3 linked regions of the Homo sapiens genome follow. The protein of the gene in region 1 purifies or fractionates together with the protein of each later gene. This does not show direct contact. Each region holds a gene or a part of one and is shown in the gene's direction. Other genes may lie near its edges.

Region 1 (6,455 bases):
GGTGAATGGCAGCGCTGAGATTTGAATCCCGGCAGTGTCTGTAGGATGAGGTTCTCCTGAGTTACTCTGCCTTTGCCGAACGTCTCTGTGCTCAGATGACCCCCCCTCAGCCCCTCTTCTGTGTGCGATTCTGGGGCTGCCCCGGCCTCAGGAGGGTGCTGGCCGTGCTGCCAGGGGGGTCCTTGGGCCGCGATTCCTGGGGGCGCTGGCTTCTCTGCAGACGAGGCTCAGCCTGCGTGGGGAGGGCGTCTGGCTGGGTGGGGGACCTGTCTCGGGCCTGCTCTGCGTCTGCCTTGCAGAGTACCTGTGCGGTGAGCAGGTGCCTGGCCCTTTCTGTGCCTTGTTTTCCCTTTTTTCCCCTCCCAGTGGGGGCTGGACACCTCCTGCTGTCAGACTGGGGTTCTGTGACTCTCTTGCAAACCACACCCCAGGTACTCACTGACCTTGGTGGCCTTTCTCCTGGCCCAGCTTTCATTCCTTGCTGACTCAGGAATTGGCAGCGTTCAGCTGGGAGCTGGGCCTGGGCAGGGAAGGAGCAAGAAATAGACTGGGCTGGAGAAGAGTGAGGAGAGAGAGAGGCAGGGGCTGCAGCAGTGGGGCAAGGAGGCTGGAGGCTAGGGGTCCGTATGGGGTAGACCCAGAGCCTGGCAGCCCTCCTGTGCTCCCTGAGCTGACTCTTACTTCCTGGGTGCTCACTTGAGCTCCCATTCTGAGCAAGCGGGAAGCCCGACGGCCTGGCTTGTCTTGGCTGAGCCTCGCTGAGGCTTGTGGGAGGCTGTGGACTCACAGGCCCACGCTCCAGCTGCCACCGCAATTGCTGCTACTCCTTGCCGGGGCAACTCCAGAGGCTTCTGCCTGAGCATCTATGCGTGCTGGGCTTCCGCAGGAACCCTGGCAGGCTGTGCTCTCTCTGAATGCTCTGCCTGCCTGCAGTGCTGCCAGGAGCGTTGCTGCCTCTGGTGAGGCTGGCCCACCCACCGGCTCCCGACAGTCCTCTCTGCCCTGTGCGCCCCCTCCCGCCCACACACAGGTCTGGCCATTTGCAGAATGCACAGGTGAATTTGGAGCAGCTGCAGACAGTGGAGATGTAGCCAGGGCTGCTGGCTACCAGCAGTGTCGCTGAAAACTTTGGGGCCAGAACAACCCGCAGCTCTGAACTGGGTAGAGGAGTCTGTGCCTGCATGAGACAGGGGCTTCCAGGCACAGCCATCTCTCCTGAACTTTGGGATCTTGCTGCAAGCTTTTTGCTGAGTGAGGAGGGGAGCCTCCCAATGGTCAGAGGGGCTCGGACCTAGAAGAGGAGTCCCTGGAGCAGGTGTCCAGGGAAAGGGACAGGCCAGGGTGCTGAGCGGAAGTGGAGTGTTTGGATTTTCCCTCAACCTGGCTGCACCTTCACTCATTCATATGAGCTGTAAACATGTATTGACGCATGCTGTGTGCTGGGCCCACCAAGAGGTGCTTAAATGAGATGCTGACCTAACCTCAGGGAGAGGGGCCCGCGTGTAATTCCTCCAAAGCCAACAGAGACATCACAGCCAGGCCCAGCCACTCCAGCTGGCCTTCCTCTAGCCTCTAGCAGGGTTTCCGAAATCCCTGCCGAGAATGATGGTTGCTCAGAGAAAGCTCTTGGACAACACCCAAGGGGACATTTGGGCTTGCCCCAAGGATAAAATTTAAAGGTGGCCATGGAGGCAACCAGGAAAGGACTGGAGCAGTCAGGAGGCAGCTGGCTCTTAGTGGGGAAGCCAGCTCCTGGGGAGTCTAGGTAAGATGGGGAAGGGGAGGCAAGAGGCCTCTGCTCCATCTGACTCCACCAGCCTCGGGACGCCCGGGGAATATGGACCTGCCCAGATGGGAGATACAGTCGCCTTGACCCTGCCGAGCTCCTGCCCTCCCCACCCCTCCTCAGAGGCTGGGCCTGAAGTGCTAATGAGATCAAGGATGGCGCCACTCAGCAGGTGTAAACGGGCTGAGTTAGGGAGGCCCTCATTCCCCTCCCTCCGTCCCCACCTGTCTTATGCCACGGCCACACCCACCTACCGCACCCTCAGCTGCTCTCTGCCTCCATCGCTGTAGGGCCTTGCTTTTTATTTATTTATTTTTTTGAAATAGAGTCTCGCTCTGTCACCCAGGCTGGAGTGCAGTGGCGTGATCTTGGCTTACTGGAACCTCCGCCTCCCAGGTTCAATCGATTCTCCTGTCTCAGCCTCCTAAGTAGCTGGGATTACAGGTGCCCACCACCATGCCCGGCTAATTTTTGTAGTTTTAGCAGAGATGGGGTTTCACCATGTTGGCCAGGCTGGTCTCCAACTCCTGACTTCAGGTGATCCGCCAGCCTTGGCCTCCCAAAGTGCTGGGATTACATGCGTGAGCCACCAAACCCGGCCAAGCCTTGCTATTTAAAGTGGGGTCCAGGGACCGGAGCCTGCTAGAAATGCAGGTCCCAGCTCCCCCGCCCCCCACCCAAATCAGAACCTGTGTTTCAACAAGATTCCAAGGTGATCTGTGTGCACAGTGACATTTAAGAAGCCCTGGTTCTCAGGGGAAAAAGGCCAGCTTTGGTGGATGGAGCCAATTTCTAGGTCAGACTTACACGCATGCTGCCTAGAGACCAAGAGGCTTCCTCCCCCACCCTGAAAGCAGCAGTATGCTCAGCTGATTTAAGTTACAATATTTTGACTGGGTAATACTTACATGATTCAAAGTTTAGAAGGTGCAAAGGATAGTCAGTGAAAAGCAACCTCCGTCCTCCCGGTTCCCCAGAGGCAGCCAGTGTTACTAATGCAGGAGGCTCCCTGATTTTGCCGAAAACTCGTGTGGTTTCTTACACATTCACTCAGGTAATGAACTTCTCCTGACGCTGGCGCTTAAGACCCAGTCTCCCCTGTCAAAAATGGACATGAAGTACGTTTCGATGTTGGGCTTGGGAGCTGACTAGCTCTCTTCTCCTACCCCGTTGTATGTGAGTTGTCTCCCCGTAAACCCAAGGTGAGAAACCTGGAGCTCAGCCCTCGCCATTGCCCGAGCCACCTGGCAGAAAAGTGCTCCAGCGCCGCCCTCACTCAACCAGTCCCAGTGCTGTCTGGGCGGCTCCCTGGAAGCATCCTCTTTGGAGGGGTTCTCTCTGCACACAGAAAGGCGGGGGTGGTGAGAGCATCCCTCCACTGAGGCTTTGGAGAGGGATGTCAGGGGCCCAGGGACATGGTCTCCAGAACAGGAACCCTCCTAGAGCAAAGCAACTTCCTCGCTTTGGGTTTTCTGGGAAGGGAACCTGCAACAAGCCTATACTGCTCTCTGATTAGAAAGTAAAGATCCAGGCTGGGCGCAGTGGCTCACACCTGTAATCCCAGCACTTTGGGAGGCCGAGGCGGGTGGATCACGAGGTCAGGAGTTCGAGACCAGCCTGGCCAATATGGCAAAACCCCATCTCTACTAAAAATACAAAAATTAGCCGGGCATGGTGTCCACATGCCTGTAGTCCCAGCTACTCGGGAGGCGGAGGCAGGAGAATCGCTTGAACCTGGGAGGCAGAGGTTGCAGTGAGCTGAGATCATACCACTGCACTCTGGCCTGGGCGACAGTGAGACTCAGTCTCAAAAAAAAAAAAAGAAAGTGAAGATCCAGGTGATCCACTTAGGTGTGTCACTTCTTCACTGACGCAAAGCCTTGCATTTTTATAACTTGGTGACTTTTAGGTTTGGGAGGAAGCAAAAAAGGCAGGGGTCATGGCTGCTGATTTTAACCAGACTTCGAAATGGCTGGCAGAAGCCACAGAACCTGAGGATAGTCATACTATTTGTTTCATATTGCAACAAAAATGTCTTCCTAGCCGGGCACGGTGGCTCACGCCTGTAATCCTAGCACTTTGGGAGGCCGAGGCGGGCAGATTGCCTGAGTTCAGGAGTTTGAGAACAGCCTGGGCAACATGGTGAAACCCTGTCTCTACTAAAATACAAAAAAATAGCTGGGCGTGGCGGCGTGCACTTGTAGTCCCAGCTACTCAGGAGGCTGAGGCAGGAGAATTGCTTGAACCCGGGAGACGGAGGTTGCAGTGATCCAAGATCGTGCCACTGCACTCCAGCCTGGGCGACGGAGCGAGACTCCGTCTCTAGAAAAAGGAAAATGTCTTCCTACAGTTAGTCATTCCTTCAGCCAGGAAATATTTATGGAGTCCCTGTGACATGTCAGGTGTTGGACCAGATGCTGCTGAGACAGAGATGAGCAACACAGACACGATCCCTGCCCCCGAGGGTTTCCAGTCTAATGGGGCATTGAACCCTTACCAAATGATCACACCCGTCATCACAGACGGAATGGGGTGTCGGAGAGGTCAGCGAGTAGTAGCCAGAGAAGGTTTCCCCAAGGAAGTGACCTATGAGTTGAAATCTGAAAGGTTATAGCAGCCTAACTAGGTGAGGGGGAAGCATTCCAGGTAAGAGAAGCACAGGTGTGAAGAGACGCTTTGATATGGGAAGGAGCAACGGAGAACCTGGGTGAAGGCGGCAGACAGGAGCCAGGTTTGGTGAGGCTTTTGTTTAATGAAGTTGACGGTCTTTAGCTGCAAGGTTGCCCCTTTAGACTTTGCTTCCTTAGAGGATTTAACCTCATTGTTTCTTCAAGGCCGGCCAAGCCTTCCAGTGACCTCTTGACTGCCCATCAGGGGCCCCGTGCTCAGAAGAGCCAGGGATCGCCTGACAGCTTCCAGACAGTGTCACACTCTTCCAGTTTCCTTGCTTTTTGCACAGCCCCCAGCTCCCACCATTTTTCTGCATAATCTTGGTGCAAGAGTGGGAGCTCATTACTCTGATGGAAACTGGCTTTTTTTTTTGTATTTTTTTTTTTTAATTTTTTGAGACGGAGTCTCGCTTTATCGCCCAGGCTGGATGGGAGTGCCGTGGCGCGATCTCGGCTCACTGCAAGCTCCGCCTCCCGGGTTCACGCCATTCCCCTGCCTGAGCCTCCCGAGTAGCTGGGACTACAGGCGCTCGCCTCGCCCGGCTAATTTTTTGTATTTTTAGTAGAGACGGGGTTTCACTGTGTTAATCAGGATGGTCTCGATCTCCTGACCTCGTGATCCGCCCACCTCGGCCTCCCAAAGTGCTGCGATTACAGGCATGGGCATGAGCCACCGCGCCTGGCCGGAAACTGGCTTTTAAATGGGGAGAAGTGAAGCATGAACTGTAGCTCTTTTCAGACTTGGGAAGGCCCTTCTCCCTGGGCACTGGTTGCCTCACTGGGAAGATGAGAGTGCCAGCCTCTCAAGAGCTCCTTTCTGTTCTGATATTCCAGGAGCACGTGAATTGCCTCTGCTTACGTTCAGGCCCTGTCCTAAACCCAGCCGTCTAGCACCCAGTGATCCCATGCCTTTGGGAATCCCAGGATGCTGCCCAACGGGAAATTTGTACATTGGGTGCTATCAATGCCACATCACAGGGACCAGCCATCACAGAGCAAAGTGACCTCCACGTCTGATGCTGGGGTCATCAGGACGGACCCATCATGGCTGTCTTTTTGCCCCACCCCCTGCCGTCAGTTCTTCCTTTCTCCGTGGCTGGCTTCCCGCACTAGGGAACGGGTTGTAAATGGGGAACATGACTTCCTTCCGGAGTCCTTGAGCACCTCAGCTAAGGACCGCAGTGCCCTGTAGAGTTCCTAGATTACCTCACTGGGAATAGCATTGTGCGTGTCCGGAAAAGGGCTCCATTTGGTTCCAGCCCACTCCCCTCTGCAAGTGCCGCAGCTTCCCTCAGAGCATACTCTCCAGTGGATCCAAGTACTCTCTCTCCTAAAGACACCACCTTCCTGCCAGCTGTTTGCCCTTAGGCCAGTACACAGAATTAAAGTGGGGGAGATGGCAGACGCTTTCTGGGACCTGCCCAAGATATGTATTCTCTGACACTCTTATTTGGTCATAAAACAATAAATGGTGTCAATTTCAAACGTGTCCTGATTTTTTTCTCTTCATGTTTACCCATCTTTTTTTTTGAGATGGAGTCTCGCTCTGTAGCCCAGGCTGGAGTGCAGTGGCACGACCTCGGCTCATTGCAGCTTCTGCCTCCCAGGCTCAAGTGATTCTTCTGCCTCAGCCTCCTGAGTAGCGGGGATTACAGGCGTGCACCACCATGCACGGCTAATTTTTTTTGTATTTTTAGTAGAGACGGGGTTTCACCATGTTGGTCAGGCTGGTCTTGAACTCCTGACCTTGTGATCCGCCCACCTCAGCCTCCCAAAGTACTGGGATTACAGGCAACAGCCACCGCACCTGGCCCATTTTTACCCGTATTTTAAAGGAAAATGTAAGAAGGCAAGATCAAAAGAGGCAGACACAAGAAACAATTAGTAAGCAATATATTCCTCATCTTGCAAAGAAATTCAAATTATGGAAATGCTTTAAATGAGCAACTATTAAAATTATAGACTAGGAAGGAACTGATAAAACTGGTACTTTTCATTCA
Region 2 (7,023 bases), on another chromosome or scaffold:
TACTAAAAATACAAAAATTAGCCAGGCGTGGTGGCACGCACCTGAAGTCCCAGCTACTCAGGAGGCTAAGGCAGGAGAATGGCTTGAACCTGGGAGGTGGAGGTTGTAGTGAGCCAAGATCGCCCTACTGCACTCCAGCCTGGGCAACAGAGTGAGACTCTGTCTCAAAAAAAAAAAAAACAAAAAAAGAAAGAAAAAGAAAAACCGGATGTAAAACAGTTTATTCTTTAAGTGCAGGGGTGTGTAACGCAATCCTTGCTTGGCATGACCTTAGATCCTGTTTATAATTTGGTATCTTATTGCCACAAACAGTCCATTCTGTCTGTCTTATGATCACTGTTTCAACATTAAGGCTGGTCAGCTGTTGTGTCTAAACTTCTAAGGAAGAGGGTATAAGGAGGCATGTCTGACCTCTCATCTCATTATGGCTGGGAACTCAGTGTTTAAGGTTTCTTGAAGGTCCCCTTGGCCAAGAGGGGGCCCATTCAGTCAGTTGGCGGGGCTTAGGATTTTTAGTTTACATTCTGCTCACTGGAGTAGCACTTTTAATTTCCTTCAGGAAATTTTCCTTTGAATTCACAACTTGACTAAATGTTTGGTGCAAGAAGTCTTGCTTTCAGCCTATCCTGACTTTTGACACACCTTCCTCACTGAGCTTAATCATTTCTAGCTTTTGATTTAAAGTGAGAGATGTGCGACTCTTCCTATCCCTCGAACATTTAGAGGCGTGGACTGAAATTCAATATTGTTGTGTCTTACAGGCTAGGGAGACCTGAGAAGAGTGAGAGAGAGGGGGGAACAGCCAGTCAGTGGAGCACTTGGAACATACACAATACCGATTAAGTTGGCTGGTTTACCTGAATGCTGTTTGTGGCACCCCAAAACAATTACAATAGTAACATTAAGGATCACTGATCACAGATCACCTTAATAGGTGTAATAATAATGAAAAACTTTGGGACCAGGCACGGTGGCTCACGCCTGTAATCCCAGCACTTTGGGAGGCCAGGGCAAGCATATCTCCTGAGGTCAGGAGTTCGAAACCAGCCTGGCCAACACAGTGGAACCCCATCTCTACTAAAAACGCTAAAATTAGCCAGGCATGGTGGCGCGTGCCTGTAATTCCAGCTATTTGGGTGGCTGAGGCACGAAAATCGCTTGAACCCCAGGAGGTGGAGGTTGCAGTGAGCCAAGATTGCGCCACTGCACTCCAGCCTGCATGACAGAGTGAGGCATTATTGCAAAAAAGAAAAGAAAAAAAAAAGTTTGAAATATTACAAGAATTACCAGGATGTGGTACAGAGACACGAAGTGAGCACATGCTGTTGAAAATGGTGCCAATAGACTTGCTGTAGTCAGGTAGCCACAAACCTTGAACTTGTAAAAATGCAGTATCTTCGAAGCACAATAAAGTGAAGTGCAATAAAACAAGATATGCCGGGCGGGGCACGGTGGCTCACACCTGTAATCCCAGAACTTTGGGAGGCCAAGGTGGGTGGATCACAAGGTCAGGAGTTCAAGAGCAGCCTGGCCAATATGGTGAAACCCTGTCTCTACTAAAAATACAAAAATTAACTGGGCGTGGTGGCGGGAGCCTGTAGTCCCAGCTACTCGGGAGGCTGAGACAGGAGAATCACTTGAACCCGGGAGGCGGAGCTTGCAGTGAGCTGAGATCACGCCACTGCACTCCAGCCTGGGCCACAGAGCGAGCCTCCATCTCAAAAACAAACAACAACAACAAAAAAACAAGATATACCTATATACCTCAATTTTAAGGAAACAAAAATTCTCAATTTTAATTTCTAACAGAGTACAGTTAGATATAAACAAAATCCCTCAATCCTTTTTAAGCGTACAAAGAGATCCGGAGAACAAAAACTTTGAGAACTACTGATCTAATGCATTGATTTCTTTTGTTTTGTTTCTGTAGTTGGGGCTACAGGTATGCGACACCACCCCCAGCATGAATGCAATTACTCAGTCTGGAGTCGGAGAAAGCGATTGAAAGGGAGGGAAAAATCTTGCTGGCTCTAATGCTTTATAAACTGTGCTGTCCAATACGGTAGCTGCTGGCCACTTGGGGCTATTGAGCACATGAAAAGTGGGTACTCCAAACTGAGAGGTACTTAGTACCAAAAAACAAAAAAATAATGGGCCGGGCGCGGTGGCTCACACCTGTAATCCCAACACTTTGGGAGCCCGAGGCGGATGGATCACGAGGTCAGGAGTTCAAGCAGCCTGACCAACATGGTGAAACCCCGTCTCTACTAAAAATACAAAAAAATTAGCCGGGCGTGGTGGTGTGCACCTGTAATCCCAGCTACTCAGGAGGCTGAGGCAGGATAATCGCTTGAACCTGAGAGGCGAGATCGTGCCATTGCACTGCAGCCTGGGCGGCAGAGCAAGACTCCATCTCAAAAAAAAAAGAATGTAAATTATCTCATCAATAATTTTCACATAGAAATGACATATTTTGTTTTTCTTTTCTTTGTTTTTCGGTAGCCATGGGTTCTTGCTATGTTGCCCAGGTGGCCTTGGACTCTGGGCCTGAAGCCATCCTCTCACCTGGCCTCCCAAAGTGCTGGGATTATAGGCATAAGCCACTGCACCTGCCCCAATATTTTGAACATATTGGGTCAAGGAAAAAATATGGTTAAAATTAATTTTACCTCTTGCTTTTTTTTTTTTTTTTTTTTTTTTTGATGCTGAATCTCTCTCTGTTGCCCAGGCTGGAGTGCAGTGGTGTGATCTCAGCTCACTGCAGCCTCCGCCTCCCAGGTTCTAGCGATTCTCCCGCCTCAGCCTCCCGAGTAGCTGGGATTACAGGCACGCGCCACCACACCTGGCTGATTTTTGTATTTTTTAGTAGAGACGGGGTTTCACCATATTGGCCATGCTGGTCTCGAACTCCTGACCTCAAGCAATCCGTGCCCCCCACCCCCACCCCCCGGCCTCCCAAAGTGCTGGGATTACAAGTATGAGCCATCGCACCTGACCTCTTTTTTTTTTTTTTTGAGATGGAGTCTGGTTCTGTCACCCAGGCTGGAATGCAGTGGCATGATCTTGGCTCAGTGCAACCTCCACCACCACGGTTCAAGCAATTCTCCTGCCTCAGCCTCCTGAGTAGCTGGAATTACAGGAGCCTGCCACCACGCCCGGCTAATTTTTGTATTTTTAGTAGAGATGGGGTTTCACCATGTTGGCCAAGCTGGTCTCGAACTCTTGACCTCAGGTGATCCACCAGCCTCGTTCTCCCAAAGTGCTGGGATTACAGGCGTGAGCCACGGCGTCTGGCCTACCTCCTGCTTTTCACTTTAATGTGGCTACTGGAAAATGTAAAATTACCTATGTGGCTCCTGTATATTTCTGTTGGAGAGTGCCATTCTGGAGACAGACAGACCGAACTGCCAATCTCTGTTTCACCACTTACAAGCTGCGTCAAAAAACTTACTATTTCTTCAAATTTCCTGGGTTCCCTGGGATGTAAAATGTGGGTAATGTTAGAGTTGGTGTGAATATTAAATGTAAATAATGAATGTAACATACTTAGCTCTATACCTGGCACCCAAGTAAACAATAAGTTTGTTGGCTATTAAAGACGTTGATTTCTCTACTGATATCGTCAGAGATGGGCCTCATGCTCATTAAAGTTCCTTCCTCTGCGACCTATTTCCACTCTGGCCACAATAATAACTAATTATAGCAGAGGCCTGACCCGACTTTCGGCTGTTGGCCTCCCTTCCCCACATCGAAAAATTCAAATCATGACCCAGGGTCCATCCTAGAAGTGTGCCATCTGTATTTATGAATGGAGCCTAAGCAAATCTGAAAACCAAGCAGCCCCAGGCAACTGAGCCCAGCGTAGCAACCGACGCCGGGGCCTGTTGCTAAGGGAAAAGAAAGAAAGGACGTGGTCCGTCAGCTATTGCTCTCCGGGGGCAGCTACTTCCGGTCCCCCTGGGAGCTGTCCTGCGGTCTACGTTCCCCCGAGGTGCTGGGACTGCGGCCGCAGGTTCCGCTGTCTCGGGAACCGTCGTATCCCTCGGTCCGGCGGCGGCGGCGGCGGTAGCGGAGGAGACGGTTTCAGGCCTCCGGTGCGGCTGCAATGCTGAGCTCCCGGGCCGAGGCGGCGATGACCGCGGCCGACAGGGCCATCCAGCGCTTCCTGCGGACCGGGGCGGCCGTCAGGTGAGATTTTGGGGGGCGGGGCTGCCGAAGAGGCCGGGACCAGGGTCCCCAGCTTGGGCCCGTGACGGCTTTTTCATGCCCTAGTTGGGGTCTCCAGGGCCCGCGCGGGCATTCTGGAAGGTTCTGCGTCCTTTAGGGTTGGAGGCCTGGGCCCGTAGGTGGGAGGACTGACGGGCTCCAGTCCTTCGGCAACACCAATTCTGTCTGCACTCCCCAGGTCTGTCAGTCCCTCCCCCTCCTGTCATTGTTCCCAGGACACCCGGGGCACTCCAGTCTTGTCAAGGCCCCTAATTCTGTCAGTGCCCTCAGTCCTTTCAGTGCCTCCTAGGCCTGCCAAGACCCCTCAATCCTTCTAGTATACCCCCAGTCCTTCTGGGTCCCCCAATCATATCAGTTTCTGGACTGCCAGGGTTCCCCAACCTTGGCACGGTTCTTCTAGTCCTATAAGTGCCCCGGGCCTGCGAGCCCCGCGTTTTGTTAGTACCGCCCCCTATTCCTGTTAGCCCGCCCTCTAGTCTAATATGGATCGCCACTTCTGTCTGGGTCCCTGATGTTGTTAGTGTGAGTAAAGGCCCTTGTTTTGCAAGGGTCTCTAAATTGGTCAGGGCCCCTTTAACCTGTTAAGGTTGCTTGGTCCTGTTAAAGCCCTCCGTTCTTGTTAGGACTCCTCGATTGCCTGGGTCCCCAATCCTGTCAGGGCCCCCATTTCCCTCTTATTCACCCTCCCAAGGGCTCCAGGCTTCAGAACTGAGTACCCCCTCCCCCACTGCTGACCCCAAATGACTGAGACCTGTTGCTCAGGTCGGCTTCCTCTGGAACTGGAGCAGGTTTAAAGAGCTTATTATCCCAGGGCTGAAAGTCCTCGATACTTATCCTGTCCAGTGCCCCCATTCCGTAGATAGGAAGTGTGGCCCCATAGCTGACCTCATAGCAGAGTTGGGAGGAGAAGCCAGATCTTTTCATCCGCAGGCCCCACCACTCTCCTCGTGATGTCATTTTGCAGAGGAATGGAGTTTCCAAAGTCGCCACTTGTCCCTGGGTATTTTTTCCTTATGCTGCCAAAGTCATGGACAAGTCCTCTCTCCCATCCCCTTGACACTCTTCCCTTCAGTTTCCATCTTGAACTTCGTGGTTTTAAGCACAGACCTGGGGAGACAGACAGGCATGATTCAGAGCCATGTTCCTTCACTCACTGTGACCAAGTTGGGCTCTTAGTTTCTTCTGCTATAAAAATGAAAGTGATAGTAGAACCTGCATCTGTGGGGTTGTTTTAAAAATGAGGTAAGATTGTCACAGGGCCTGGCAGAGAGTATGTACCCTTAAATATTAGTGTTTGATTAGGGGATTTTAAAGCACTGGTAAAGCACCTTAGCACTTCCATGACAGTCCTTTATAATCTTTCCAGGCACTTTTGTGAACTCACGTATCGTGTAAAAGCACAGTGATGTATTAAGAAACTTCAAGAATACCTTTCACCAGCTGGGCATGGTGGCTCACACCTGTAATCCCAGCTCTTTGGAAGGCTGAGGCAGGTGGATTTCTTGAGCTCAGGAGTTCGAGACCAGCCTGGGCAATGTAGTGAGACCCTGTCTCTACAAAAAAATTTAAAAATTACCTGGGCATGTGGTGTGCAGCTGTGGTCCCAGCTACTTGGGAGGCTGAGGCAGGAGGATCACCTGAGCCCGGAAGGTGAAGATTGTGTTGAGCTGAGATGGCACCACTGCACTCCAGCCTGGGCACTAGAGCAACTAGAGCAAGACACTGTCTCAAAAAAAAATAAAAATAAAAATAAGAAAAAAAGAAAGAATAGCTTTCATGAATGATCCTGAGATTGTAATGCTTAATTTGTAGCAGCTAACATTTATTAAGTTCTTACTATGTACTGTATGCATTCACACTTATTTAATCCTCACAACAGCCCTATGAGGTAGGTCTTATGGATTGTCCCCATTGTACAGATGAGGAAACTGAGGCTTAGAAGGTGAAGTGATGCCAAATGAAATAGCAAAGCCAGGATTGAACCAGAATAAGGTAATCCCACTTTCTTAACCAAGTTTGGTGCATATTCTGTTGACTCTGTCTTGGAAAACAAATATTTATCTGAAATTCAGCTATCAGCTATGATACTAAGAAATGCTGATTATTATAAAACAGGGTCAATATTACCACCAGTGACTCTTCACCAAGTTAATGTTTACTGAACTGAAATCAAAACAATATTCACATGATCCAAATACTGGGATAATAATGTATTACACACACACACACACAAACACGTATGTATGCATGTGTAACATATATGCAGATACACATTACATAGCTATATACACATAGATGGTTTGTCTTATTTTGTAGAAATATATAACTTTGTATAAAAACAATGTTTTAAATTGTTGGGGAAATTTCTTAATATGTAGCAAAAGCATAACCAGCGTTCAAGTCAAGCCTGAAGTTAGGAAATCTTTAATTTTATAAATATTCAGCTCTTTTATACCATTGTATGTGTGCCCCTTCCCTGTCTAATATTCTAAAAGAGAAATTCATTTCTGTATATTTTCTCCAGTATTCAGTCATTCAATAAATATTTTATATATATATACACACACACATATATATACATATATATATATATATATATATTTTTTTTTTTTTTTTTTTTGAGGCAGAGTCTCGCTCAGTCACCCAGGCTGGAGTGCAGTGGCGCAATCTGGGCTCACTGTAACCTCCGCCTCTTGGACTCAAGCCATTCTGCCTCGGCCTCCAGAGTAGCTGGGATTACAGGCACCTGCCACCACACCCAGCTAATTTTTGTATTTTTAGTAGAGACAGGGTTTC
Region 3 (7,160 bases), on another chromosome or scaffold:
TTGATACCAAATAAAAGGAATTGAGGAAATAGGAATAGTGGAGTCAGGTAGGCAGCTGAGGTGCTGGACACAGCAGAGGAAGGGAAGAGGGGGAAGGAGGAGGTGATGGGATATTGTGACCATTCCTCAGGAATTAAAAAAGTTGGCATGAGCTGTTGCTAGACCAGTTGATAATCAAGAGGAAAGATTGCTATGATAACATTTCGATTCAAATTTAAACATGGAACCACATTTAATACTTAGTTGAACTTTCCATTATAAATGAATTTAATCAGAAAAAGCCTATGCTCAGTTGATGAAAACATGAATTTCTGCCTTACAGCACATCATTGTCAACAAACATATTGAAGGTCTAATGAACTTGGAGTAGTCAGCTGTTTCTGACAGAGGCACCAAGAAAAATGTATGAGGTCTCTGTCTGTCCTGATCACTTCCAAACACTAATGTTCTATATGAATCTATCAATTAAAGATTTATCTGAAAAATCTTAAAGCTTTTCTTAAAATATAATCTCAGCCTATTAAAGTAACAAAGACTTAACTACATAGCATGTCAAATACCTCTATCTTTACTTTCTTAATCTTTGAAGCTTTAATAGCTATACTATAATTGCCAAGGTTTGTCAGTAGCTGGATTCATAGCTATGATTTCAGAGACTTTAGACATACCTCCTTCCCCCATGCCAACCTTTGTCTTTCCAGTTTGAAATTTTTTTAAAGGCATATGGAAGTGTTCTCAGCCTGTTCCATTGTTGTATGAAAAATAAGAAGGCAGAGAGGTGTCTTAGAAATCCTGCCAAGGAAGCAGCCCCACGTTTGAGCAGAGTTCAAGGCTGGATCCACATACCTGCGTTGTGAAGCAACTCGTCTGCCTGCTTTGTTGGGATCTATGCCTCCTTGGCTGAAAGCAGTGATGACTGTGGTTAAGGCGGAAGGTGTATTTACTGTCAGAAGACTATCAGTTCTTTCCCTGTTTCTTATGGAGTCTGGTGTATGATTCCTGGTATTTATTATCTCTTTATCGTTCCTTACAGCATAAGAACCCAGGTATTTGTAATCCTAACTGCTGTTGCGTTATGAGACTTAACTTTATGAGGTGTAAAAGGGTCACATGAAATTACATAGCAGTGTGCTGACACCATCTTGGTTTAGTTTTGTCTTAAGCACACTGCCTCCTACTGACTTCCATGGCTGCCAGTGTCTCATTTTGGAGAGGAGGCTACGCTGGAGAATGGAACTATATTTTGAGTCAAGATTCTGGGGTTCTAATCCTGGCTTTAAGGAAAAAAGCCATGTGGTATATTGGAAAGCCCATGGGCATAGAAACAAAAGGGTTCTGGGTTTGCAGCTCCCTCTATCAATTGCTAGCTGTGACTTTCAACACATTACTTAACCTCTAATCCTTATTTTGTTTTTAAAATGGCAATAGGAGTGTCTGTGTCACAAGGTTGTTGCGTTTGAAAGAAATGATGCATGTTAATATGCTTGAAATCCAGCGGGCCCTCAATAAATTACAGCTATTGTTCCCTGAGCCCCCTGTTAATCTTCATTGTAGGGAAATAAGTGAGTTGAGCTGCTGCATCAGCATTTTTTTCCAGCTCTAAGCCTTTAAGGTTTAAAATAATCTGACCCCTCCATACACCTACACCTGCTCTGATTTAGAAAATGTAATACTGTGGTAGAATTCCAAATCAGAAATAATTGCTGACATTTACTGATCATATCTTGTATGCCAGAGACTGTGCAAAGGGCTTTACATACGTTATCTCATGTAATCATCATAAATAACTCTTCGAGGTGTAGGTATTATTATTTCACAGAAGTACCAGATAAGACAGAGAAGTAACTTATCCACTGCTAATAAAATGCCAAGCCTAGTAAGTGTGGCCCGATAGTGTGTGCTATTGATGCTCACCTGATAGAGGATGGCAGGTTTGGGCAGAGAGAAAAGTTGGGTGGCAGTGCAGTCATCACACAACCAATAGGATGGGGAGCTCTGGAGCTGGGATGGCCAAGCAAAGTAGCCCTACATTGGTTTAGGGGATTTTATACCCGTTTCAACCAGTTACTTGACTAGCTGTTGCCTAGAAAGGGGGTATACCCGTGGGGAGAGGTGCTTCTCTTTGGCAGTACTCAGCAGCTGGAGGAATGCCTGCTTAGGTCTTGAAGAGGGGGATCTGGGTGGTGTGCCACAGCATCCACTACAGGACCAACAGATTCATATGCCCACTGCACAGTATACACTGAGACAGCAGGGTTTGCAGAAGAGAAAGAGTTTAGTGATGGCAGGGTGCCGAGAGGAGATGGGAGGAAACCCTCAAATTCATCTCTCTGAGGAGTTCTGTGCTGGGGCTTTTAAGGGGATCCTGGAGGGCAATGGGCTGGAAAATTAGGGTCCTCGATTGGCTGGGGTAAGGAGGAATGAAACCATCAGGATGTGGGAACTGCATTCTTTGGTGAGTCAGCTCCTTGTCAGACCAGCTGAGTCAGTAGTTTCATCAGTACGAAGGACCTGAAAGGTTATCTCAAAGCACAAACTTAACGTTTCATAATGTTCAAGTTGTTGTCTATAGAGCAGTTAGGGGAAACTATAACCTTGTAACAGAGTCTACATGATTCTGAAGCAATAGGCAAACAATTATGAGGAAGGGGTCAGACAGCAAGCTGACCTAATTATTAATCCTCAGTGTGCTGCAAGCTTGGTTTAATTTCGTTCCCCCCACCCCTTTTTCCCAGATTAACTTCATAAAGTATATAGGCATGGTTTCAGACACCACTGTAAAGGCATCCTAAAGACAGGGCTGACTCTGACAACCAAGGGACAGATCCCATTTCTTTTCATTTGACGTGACCGCTGTCATGATACTTTACAAAGAATGTGTGTGCCAAACATGAGGGATAGACGAATAAGTACAGGTCACACTGAATCTAAAAAAGACACTTTTCAAGAGGGAACTTCCTCAAGGAGATAGTACCTGAATTGATGGGGCGGCATGGAGATGGCTGATTATTCCAGGCAGAAGGGCCAGTTTGAGCAAAAGCATGGAGGAATGAAACAATAGTATTCTGTTTTCAGAAGCTGTATATATTTGACACAATATACACATAATCAAAACATGTGTACGCCGTAAACACAATTTTTGTCAATTATACCTTAATAAAGAAGGAGGAAAAAGGGCCTTCACTAGCCCAAATGATGCCCCTGTGCGGTTTTTTCTTTAAAGGCACCTCTTCCGTTAAGTGAAAGTTTTAGTATATTATCACATCTGTACAGTTTTATTATTAAACCCCAGTACACAATATTTTAATGTTGAGAGATGGTGTAAACTGAGCTTTAGAGCTGCAAAGACCTGCGTCAAGCCCCCGCCCCCGCCCCCGCCCCCGGGCACTCATCGTCCAGCACAACAATTGCAACAACACCTGGGCGTTCTCTGCCCATGTAGCGAGGTCAAGGTCCTGGGAGCCGAACTCTCCCTTGATGTTCAATCTTTTTAAATCTTTCCCAGCCTTTATTTCTCATCTGCAAAATGACGATAATCGCATTTGAAATTCTCCGTTTTCAAAATGCAGGAATTTATTAAAGGATACGTAGGCTGGGGAAACAAGGGAGACGAAAGATCTAAATCTAAATGGTAGACCAGAAAAAGGAAGGCAAGGGTGTCTGGAAACACAAAACAGTCAACATAGATTTTAAGACTCATCTATACTCTCTTCTTCCCGGGTTTGGGAACTGCGGTTGCTACACAGGTCACATTTGAAATAAAAGTCCTGGGACGGCGGCCGGCGCGACACTCTCCCCCGCACAGCGCAGGCTCTCACTGGGAATCTGCCGGGACCGCAGTTGCCAAGGCGACTCCGCGCTGCAGGGCGAGGCGGCCATCCGTCTGTGCCCGCCCCCTCACGCCGTGGCGCGCTCTCACGCTTCCCCGCCTCCGGGCGCTCCGCGGTGCCGACCATTGGCTGGCTCTGCAGGTCTCACTATCCTCACTCCATCCGCGGAGCCAATGGCTGGGACCGCCAGGAGCTCGTTCGCGCGAGTCACACGATGTCGGCAACTGCACAGACCAATCACCGCGCCGAGAAGGCGGGGCGGGAGCTCTCGCAGGCCAATAACGACAGGACGGGCCGCCTGGCCCACCCGGCTCCACCCCCAAGCCAGGCGAGGCAGGTTCCGAGGTTGGAACACCTGGCGAGTCCTCGGTGTCGGTGGCCGGCAGTCATCTCGCGGCCGTTCAGGTGAGGGGGTTGGAGGAGTGGCTCATGAGCGAGGAAGGGGGAGCAGGCGGGCTCCCACCCGGTGCTCCGTGAGATCGAGGGGAGCGGGTTCTGGGTGCGGATGCACGCGCTGGGCGGGACGCTGGCAGTGGTACCCGAGACGGGGCGGAAGGAGACTGGAGTGAAGGTGGGCCTAGGCTAAGGTACGTGCTAGAAAGGATGAAAACGGAGTGAAATTCTTAAGTGATGGAACTAGGCTAGGGCATGTTTCTTGCCCTTTAAAATGTGTTGTCTTCGGGAGACAGGACGTAGAAGATAGTTGCAGCACAGGGTGATAGGCTGGCGAAAGTTATACAAAAGCAGGAACCACTAGAAGGAGGTAAGATGTAGTGTGCTTTGGGAGTAGTGGGGTTGGGAAGGGCGTCCGAGAGGAGGTTACTGAAGGATGACTAGGAGTTGAATGGGAGGACATCACCTGTAAGGGAACGATATTTCCGTGGGCAGAGAGGAATGAAGCAGTAGCAACCATGAGTGATCAGATACTGCAAAAATGTGAAGTGTAGGATGGCGAGAATGTAAGAAATGAAGAGTGAAGAAGTCTGGAAGGGCCTCGTGTGCATCAATCACAGCGGGGCTTGATCTTTATGCTTAGGGCAAGCACTCCCTTGAACTTTGAGTGTTTTAAGGAGGTTATCTCTGATGTTTAAATTTATATAGATCGTGGCATTGCATCTTAGAAATAAGGTTTAGGAAGGGCAAGCTTGGAGGCAGGGCAAGTCCAGAAAATGAAGGAGCTGGTGAAATCCGTGTTAAAGTGCCAAAGGACAGAGACTGGCTGACAGCTAAACTTCAAGGTTTCTGAGAATCCACAAATAACTAAATTTATCTAGTCAACCTGTTCCAGAACAGGCTTCCAGTCATTTAGGTTGCCCAAGAATGAGTAAAGGAAAAGGAAATTCAATTTTCCAAGACCTTGTTTCCCCTCTCCTCTTTAATTCCTTGTTCGGTTAGCAACAGTATATCCATTCCCTCGCTCCTTTGTGAAAAGTAAATTCCTGAATGTTAACTAAACCAAGTGTTTCTAAATTGGGTAAGAGTTTGAAGACTTAAGGCAGCAGAATGGGAGAGACTTAAAACGTTATGTCTGAGAATTAGGCATTAAAGGAGGCCTAGTATTTGGGCGGGGGTTGTGAGGAGCACATACTGAACCTTTGGACCTGTTGAGTGAGTTCATGTGCCTCTGAACTCTCTGACTGGATATGACCAGTAAACTTGGATAATTAGATCCTGGAGTTTAGGGGAGAGGGCTAGAGATAGAGATGATGGATGTCAGCATATTTTTAAAACAGAAAATAGTTAAGATCACCCAAGACAATCTGGAATCGTTAGAAGGGAGTAAGGAAGGCATTATTGGGAAACTTTCCAGCTTCAATTCTCATATTTTTTCTAATCTCCTGGTTGAGTCTTTGGAGTTGCTGTTCTCTCTATGCAAAACCCCTCCCTTGACCCTCTCTCCCTCACTCTATTTTTTAATTTGTCACCTCCTTCTCCTGTTCTAGGTCTCAGTTTAGATAGCACCTTTCTCTAGAAGTTCATAGCACTGTGTATTCCCCCCTTTATTGTTCTTATCACATAATTTTTGATGGTTTGGACACTAGTTGTTATTCCTCACTAAATTTTATGTTTTATGAACTCAGGGGTAAGGGCACCAGCTAGCACAATGAATGCACAATACTTGTCAGAGTGAATGCATTTAAGTTCCAAGAACCAAGGAAAGGCGGTATTTCAAGAAGAGAAGTATCAAATCTTCCAGATTAGTCAAATAAACTCCAAAAAAAAAAAAAAAGGTTTATTGGATTTGGCAGCTGGAGATCCATAGCGATTTTTTTTTTTTTTTTTTTTTTTTTTTGAGACGGAGTCTCACTCTGTCGCCCAGGCTGGAATGCAGTGTCGTGATCTCTGCTCGCTGCAACCTCAGCCTCCCGGGTTCAAGCAATTCTCCTGCCTCAGCCTCCCCAGTAGGTGGAATTACAGGCATACGCCACCACACCCGGCTAATTTTTTTGTATTTTTTTGGTGGAGATGTTTCACCATATTGGCCAGACTGGTCTGGAACTCCTGACCTTGTGATCCGCCCACCTCAGCCTCCCAAAGTGCTGGGATTACCAGCGTAAGCCACCACACCCAGCCTCCTTAGTGATTTTAGTAAGAGTAAGTTCAGTGCAGTGATGACAATAGAATGCAGATTGCAGTTGCTAGAATATAAACAGGAAATAAGAAGATAAAGACAACTCGTGGAATACCTTTTCATAGAGCTTAGGTAAACTGTAGGAATTATTCTCCTTGTACTCTAATACTTATTATGGGTTTTATTTATAATTATAGTGTAATATAATGGATGAGTGCATGGGCTTCCCCACTTAGCATTTGTTAAGCATTAACTTAACATTAAGCATTAGACTTTGGGCAAGTTGCTTAATCTTTCTAAACCTCAGTTATTTTATCTATAAAATGGTGATAAAATAATACCTACCTCACGAAGGTGTGGTAAGGATTAAAGTGAAAATGTAGAGAGCAGGTAGCATGCTTTGAACACAGTTCTTGGCACAGAAAGTGCCCAATAATTGTTAGTTTCTTGTAGCTATTACATGCCAGGTCCTGTGCTAACTAAGCGCTTTATATGCATTGTCTCTTGGACTCATTGGAAGACCTACTGTTTTAATTTTTGCTGCTGATAAAACTGCATCACAGAGAGGTTACCTAATTTGCCCAAGGTCACAGGACAGGACTAGTAAGTGGTCTTGGTTCATTATTGTCAAATTTACTAATCACCTTGAGAAAAATTAAGATTGGATGGTTGCCTTATTTTACAACTTAGAAGATGATTGAAGACATTTTGGTGCAGGTGGGGAGCCAGATTGCAAGTAGCTCAGTGAGTTGTGTGGG

The links. Proteins that work in one complex are often made in the same cells at the same time.
Region 2: the proteins of P2RX5 (region 1) and USP30 purify together in Homo sapiens (affinity purification with mass spectrometry; 2 studies listed by BioGRID and IntAct, with this or other methods). This does not show direct contact.
Region 3: the proteins of P2RX5 (region 1) and MSMO1 purify together in Homo sapiens (affinity purification with mass spectrometry; 2 studies listed by BioGRID and IntAct, with this or other methods). This does not show direct contact.

Annotation. Positions count from the first base shown.
Region 1 is NC_000017.11:3,672,712-3,679,166, reverse strand, and holds the end of P2RX5 (P2X purinoceptor 5), read left to right. Parts: intron 1-5,289; coding exon 5,290-5,299; 3' UTR 5,300-5,940; downstream 5,941-6,455.
Region 2 is NC_000012.12:109,048,574-109,055,596, forward strand, and holds the start of USP30 (ubiquitin carboxyl-terminal hydrolase 30), read left to right. Parts: upstream 1-4,002; 5' UTR 4,003-4,105; coding exon 4,106-4,188; intron 4,189-4,208; exon of another isoform or gene 4,209-5,464; coding exon of another isoform or gene 5,465-5,469; intron 5,470-5,932; exon of another isoform or gene 5,933-6,219; intron 6,220-7,023. UniProt on the Homo sapiens protein: Deubiquitinating enzyme tethered to the mitochondrial outer membrane that acts as a key inhibitor of mitophagy by counteracting the action of parkin (PRKN): hydrolyzes ubiquitin attached by parkin on target proteins, such as RHOT1/MIRO1 and TOMM20, thereby blocking parkin's ability to drive mitophagy.
Region 3 is NC_000004.12:165,323,530-165,330,689, forward strand, and holds the start of MSMO1 (methylsterol monooxygenase 1), read left to right. Parts: upstream 1-4,139; 5' UTR 4,140-4,235; exon of another isoform or gene 4,236-4,417; intron 4,418-7,160. UniProt on the Homo sapiens protein: Catalyzes the three-step monooxygenation required for the demethylation of 4,4-dimethyl and 4alpha-methylsterols, which can be subsequently metabolized to cholesterol.